2 separate regions of the Homo sapiens genome follow, and region 1 is linked to region 2. The links come from fine-mapping of genetic effects on gene expression. A gene starts in region 2. The other region holds a variant in brackets. All regions are shown on one strand. Distances are from middle to middle.

Region 1 (2,899 bases), 680 kb after region 2:
CAGCAAGAAAACAAAAACTATCCAAAACAATCACTCAAAGGAGGGTCTCAGCACCATTCCCCACTCAGGGAACCTGGAGAAATGGCCAAGACCAAGGCCCGTGCAGGGATGGGGGGATCAGCAAGTCTGGGGTGAGCTAGGAACAGGGGCTTGTGCCAAAGATGGGAAGCGCTCAGGGCCCCCGCTGGTCCCCATCAAATGCACGGCAGTGGCAGTGAAGGATTACTGCACGTTCAAAACTCACGTGATGGAAAAAGGGAGGGGAGGGGGGAACGCTCGGACGAGGGGCGGCGAACACAGAACCGCGCTGCAGCGGTTGGTTCCACAGGTCACCACCGGTGCTTATTAACCAGACAGCGTGGTGTTCGTGCAGTGGAGGTTCAGAAACCACCCCCGCAGCCGTGGTCAGCGCTGCTGCCACAAACGTCCCCACCCAGCTGGGGAGGACATGGCATCCCTTGGGGTAGAACTCCTGCCCCAAAACTCAACCTGGACCTACTTGGGGGCGCAATCAGGCAAACCCAAAGTGAAGTTATCTTCCAGAACGTCAATGTCATACAAGACAAAAAGGGGCAGGAATGTTCTAGAACAAAAGAGACTGAAGTGATATGATAACCAAACACAGCATGTGACTCTGGATACAATCTTGTTTGCAAAAACAACAAAGCAACAACTAGAGAAGGAATTATTGGGGCAAGTGGCACATCTGCACTGGGACCGAGTATTAGAAGCATGTGGACGTGAAGCGCCCCACAGCGGACCCTGCCCGGGGGGGACTGGGAGGACGGCAGCGCACCCTGCCCGGGGGGGCGGACTAGGAGGACGGCAGCGCGCCCTGCCCGGGGGGGGGACTGGGAGGACGGCAGCGCACCCTGCCCGGTGGGGGCGGACTGGGAGGACGGCAGCGCACCCTGCCCGGGGGGGACTGAGGAAGACGGCTGTGCTCTCAGGTGTCTGTGGGCGAGTTTAGGGCTCCAGTGCCATGATGTTTATAAGAAACTCTCAGATGCCTCAGTTGGAGGGGGGCAATGTAGCAAAATGGTCACAATTTTGGTATTTTTGGCAAATGGTTGTAATTTCGGGGAGAAGGTGTTGTTCATTCTGATCTATGCAGTTTCCTGTGGTGTTGAAGATTTTCTAAATAAAAAGGTGGGGGCTGGGCACGGTGGCTCACGCCTGTAATCCCAGCACTTTGGGAGGCCGAGGCGGGTGGATCACCTGAGGTCAGGAGTTCGAGACCAGCCTGACCAACATGGTGAAACCCTGTCTCTGCTAAAAATACAAAAAATTAGCCGCGCGTGGTGGCGTGTGCCTGTGGTCCCAGCTACTCGGGAGGCTGAGGCAGGAGAATCACTTGAACCTGGAAGGTGGAGGTTGCTGTGAGCTCAGATCGCACCACTGCACTCCAGCCTGGGCAACAGAGTGAGACTCCGTCTTGAAAAAAAATAAAAAATAAAAAGTTGGGGAGAGAAGAGGACTTCTTCCTCTTGCCCTCAGCCACGTGCGTGGCAGGAGCTGGGGCGGGTGGAGGCTAAGCACGTGTAGCAGGTTCAGGAGGGAACCAGGTGGAGCGTGGAGCTGGCACTGGACA[C/T]GTCCATCTTTCACTGGACCATTGTCAGATGTGGCCGCCCGCCCCAGACCTGCATGCTCCACTGTTCCTCACACTCAGGGCCAGCAAGTCCAAGTTCCAGCCTCTAAGGGAGATGCCAGCACCTTTCTAAAAAGTACACGTGGGTGCTTCACACCAGAGAGCCACACTCGGAAGATGACCCTGGAAGCAAAAGCTGGAACCCAGGGTGAAGGCCGTGCCCCAACAGCGAGGACAAGCTGTCCGGAGAAGCTTCTCCGGGGTCACGACTGCTCTTGCCTCTGATGGGCACCAGCAGACCTCAGGTGTGCACCTTGAGCCTAAGCCCCAGGCCCAGCGGTCAGCATATTTGTGATGCACCGACACCGGGCTGGCTCTGAGCAAGGCTGGAGGTGCTGGAAGACGCCACGACCTGGGCTCACAGAGCTCATGATCGGCCGGGCTGGACCTTCTGGTTCTCTGCTCTAGCCCCTCCTCCACCCAGTGCAGGCTGGTCCTGTCTAGCTGGATGCATTGGCCTCTCCAGCCCTGTGGACGGACCTGGCTGATTGACCTTTGGCTGGTCGCCCCCCAGAAGACTCGGTGTGCGGGGGGTAATCTGCTTCTCCATAGACCCACCCATGGCCTCGGGGTGGGAGGACACTGTCCAACAGGAGGGGGGTTGCAGTGTACTTGTCCCTGGCAGCATCTGCCCTTGCGACTGTCCCGGTCTCCTCACAGACTTCCTGGGGACATGCCCCAGAAGGCCCCACGCCATTGACACACTTAGAGTGAAGATAGCCCTCCACCAACAGACAGAGCAGGAAAGCCACAGGGTTACTGGAACTGCAGTTAGCGCCAGGACACCAGACAGGAGCAACCTCAGCCTGTCCTGCCAGCCAGGAGGTCCCGCCCACGCCCCAGGGCCCGGATCCTGCTTGCTAAGGGAGTCCGGCTGGCCCTGCCACCTGCCCTCTCGAGGCCCGCATGCCCGGGGCCAGCACTGAGGTTGCGTCCTGCCTGCAGGAGGCACCAGTTGAGCAGGTAACCTGCGGAGAGGGAGGGGATGGGGCGGGAAGCCCACCACCAGGGCTGCGGGAGCGGCAAGGCCACACTGACGCACCACGCGGGCTGGAGAGAAGCCAGGTTAGTGTCCCGGAGGGGTGTGGGCAGCAAGCTCCAGCCCCACTGCCCTGCAGCTGCTGTTAGCCCCCACGGAGCGCCGGCTGCGTACATACCTTACTGGATCACACACAGTTTCTTTGTTTTATTATCATCAGAATCAGGGGGAACCTCTGCTTCCAAATAAAAGAAACGCACTCAACGGCTTAT
Region 2 (2,899 bases):
TGAACAGCTATATCCCACCATTCTCACTACTGGGCCTGACACAAGCCTGTAGCTCACTGTCCAGCAGTAGAGAGACCAGGAGATGCTTCCAGTTTGGGGAATCACAGCAGAGCCTCTCCCACTATTTTGTTTTGGTCAACTTTCAGTGACAAATCCTTCTCCTGACAGCTGCCCCACCTGGTTGGGAGGACACCACCCCCCCTGGGGACCTTGCTTTCCCTCCCGCTTCTTGCCACCTTCAGCCTGGGGTGGGAGGCACTGGGGAGAGCTAAGGGAAGTGTGTTGCCTTGCCTCCTTCCTGGCCTTGGAAGACCTCTCTACAGAGCCCAGCGGCCCACGGTTCTGGAAGCAAGAAGGGTGCAGGTCCACCTTGGTGCTCGTCCAGGGCCATGGGGAAGAGAGCCTCCTGAGTCCAGCCATCTGTTTCTCATCAGTCCCCACTCAGCCCTCCCCTGAGGCTGCTCATCACGACCAGCCTGGAGTTTTCAGAGACAGCGGCCTCAGGCGGGCTGGGGACAGGAGAGTAGCCTCGGCCAGGGTTTCCTTCCGCTTACCCAGTCCTGAGTCTGCAGTCCCTGCTGAACGCTGCTCTGGATACTGGGCTGGCCCCAGGCTGCTATCAGGCCCAGTGGGGGCCGCCTGTGCTCTTGGGAGAGGTGCGACTCCAGCTTCTTCCCCCGGGGGGACAGTTTCCTGCTGTCCATCTCTAGCCCTAGTAGGCTGCTTGTCCACACCTCTGAGATCTGGGGGTAGGAGCAGGGGGAGGTGGGGCGGGGCCCACAAGGCCACCCACGTGCCCACCAATACCTGAGTCCCTGGGGGCAGATGGTGGCAGTATCGCGGTCTGCTAGGGTCACCTTCCAGCCAAAGGTCAGGCATCACTGACCCCTCTGGGTGGAGTGGATCCCCCAGCTCCCGCCGCAGCTCTTCTCCACACCAGCCTCCCGAACTGTCCTCTCTGCCCCTGCCGACCCCACCCCGGGAGCCTGGAAAGCCTTCGGCAGCCTGCTGCACGGACTCCACGCCTCTGCCAGCCTTCTCAAACGTTCCAGGGGCATCAGCCCTCAGCCAGCACTGCGGGCACGCTCTCAGGGCCCGGCCTTGCTACGCCCGGGGCGAAGGAAAGGCCCAGAGCTCTTGCCACAGCCCCGCTTCCGACCCTGAGACCTCCCCTCCACGCGGCCCAGGCCTCGCCCCAGGCCCAGCCCGGAGCCCTTACGTGCCCGCCCTCTCCGGTGGGGAGGCGGGGTCTGCGCGGCCGGGGTCCGCGGAGGGACGGGGGAAGAAGGCTCAGGACACACGCTGGAGGCCGTGGGCACTCTGGGGTTCGGCGGGGGGGCGGGGTACACGGGAACGGCGGTCGGAGGTGGGGGGTACGTGGGCACCCGGAGACAGAAGGAGGGACAGACCCGCCGCGGATGGAGAGGCCACAGGGGGCCGCTGGAGTACACCGCGGCTTGAGGGGGCCCAAGGGGCCGGCGCCTCGCTCCAGAACGTCCGCTACGGCAAGCCCCGCCCCCACCGGTTCCGCTTCCGGTCTGCGCCGCGCCTGCGTTCTGGGCTCCGTTGCGGCGGGTGGGGGATGGGCGCGGTCTGGGGGTCCCCGGCGCATATCCGGGTCTATGGCCGCTACCGCCCCACGGGCCCTTCCGGGCGTCGGCCTCCGGGGTCTCCCGAAGCACAGACCTGAACTTGGGGTTTGTCGGCCAGAGCCCCTTTCGGCCCTGCGCCCTTCAAGCGGCGCGATGCCGCTGAGCCCCGGGCCACCTCCGCGCGCGCGGGGCCGCAGGGCTGGGGCGGGGCGACCCAGGACGGGGCGCGCGGGCGGGAGGGAGGCGCTGCTCCGCCGCGTGCTCCCAAGGGGTGGACGGCCGAGAGAATCACACTGCAGGCGGGGGCCGGCCCCTCCAGGTTTATTAGTGTTGCATCAGCACCTTGAAATAGTCCACACGGTCACATACGTGACATTAGAATCCGTTCCCCAAAAAGCTATTTACATTAATCCAGGGTTTCATTAAAAAAAACTAGCAACACATACATCCTAGAAACCAAACAATGCACAATGAACCGCATGGGGGTCTGCAGAAACTACAGTGGTGCTTCTTTGGCCCACAGGGTCAGATTCCAGAGGTGCCCAGCAAGCCCAGCTCTCAGTCCCCTACAGGCCACACACCCGCGGACGGCAGGACAGGTCTCGGGGAGGGGGCGGCCTGGCCCTCGGAAGAAGTGGCCTGGTCATTTTCATGAGGAATTCATTCCCGGAGGAAGGCGAGAGGCACTCAGGTCTTTCCATCTGGGAATGAGGACAGTGTGGCAAGGCTGCCAGTACCCTGCAGAGACACCCCCAGCTCTCACCCAGAGGCCCCTCTCCTGCCCCAGCTCTGGCCGAGGCACTGAACCAGGACACTGGCTTGCATGCCCAGAGACAGTGGCCAAGGGGACCAACATGGAAGAGGAAGGCAGCAGACCAGATTGCAGGGCGGGACTGGCCCACAGCTGGCCTGGGTGAGGGTGGGGTCTGTCTACGTAATAGTGGACAGTGGCCACCAGGCCTGAGGGGTGCCTCGGTGGTGACTGGTGGCTTAACCTTTGAGACTGATGGGGCTGAGCCCTAGCTCTACAAGGGGCTGCCTCCTGTCCTGTGAGGCCAGTCCAGGGCCAGGTTCTCGGGGGGTGTGCACACCTCACACACACATCCCCCGCCCTTACCGCACTGGCTGTCAGATGGCTTTGGTTTCTAGTTGTCCTTGGTGGGACAGAGTGCTCCTCCATGCACCCTCAGAACAGCTCTGTGAGGTAGGCAGGGAAAATGCGACCATCCTGTGTAACCAGTGGGAAAACCGAGGCACAGAGGGCTGGCATGGCCCAGGTCTTGTCTGCCCAACCTCCCTGGTGCTGG

Alleles and levels. Alleles are on the strand shown, and positions count from the first base shown. SD is a standard deviation of normalised expression in the study named.
With allele C in place of T in region 1, the expression in breast of the gene that starts at base 1,507 in region 2 is lower (moderate effect, 0.52 SD a copy in GTEx).

Evidence for each region. PIP is the estimated chance that this variant, and not a neighbour inherited with it, causes the effect. A credible set is the group of variants that fine-mapping cannot tell apart.
Region 1: its variant is the best candidate, but not a certain one, in a credible set for the expression of TEX22 in breast (GTEx, PIP 0.87).

Annotation. Positions count from the first base shown.
Region 1 is chr14:104,715,247-104,718,145 of GRCh38, reverse strand. It overlaps INF2 (inverted formin 2), which reads right to left. Exons shown (of 23, transcript NM_022489.4): 22 at 2,806-2,862. The coding sequence ends at 2,807. Among named protein-coding and RNA genes, the nearest start is that of ADSS1, 7.5 kb to the left of the region's middle. RefSeq lists an enhancer at 2,531-2,899. The variant C/T (reference allele first, on the strand shown) is at 1,592.
Region 2 is chr14:105,397,146-105,400,044 of GRCh38, reverse strand. TEX22 (testis expressed 22) reads right to left here and starts at 1,507. Exons shown (of 4, transcript NM_001195082.2): 1 at 1,410-1,507; 2 at 555-743. The coding sequence starts at 704. It overlaps PACS2 (phosphofurin acidic cluster sorting protein 2), which reads right to left. Exons shown (of 25, transcript NM_001100913.3): 25 at 1,898-2,899. RefSeq lists enhancers at 396-906, 907-1,417 and a silencer at 1,085-1,994.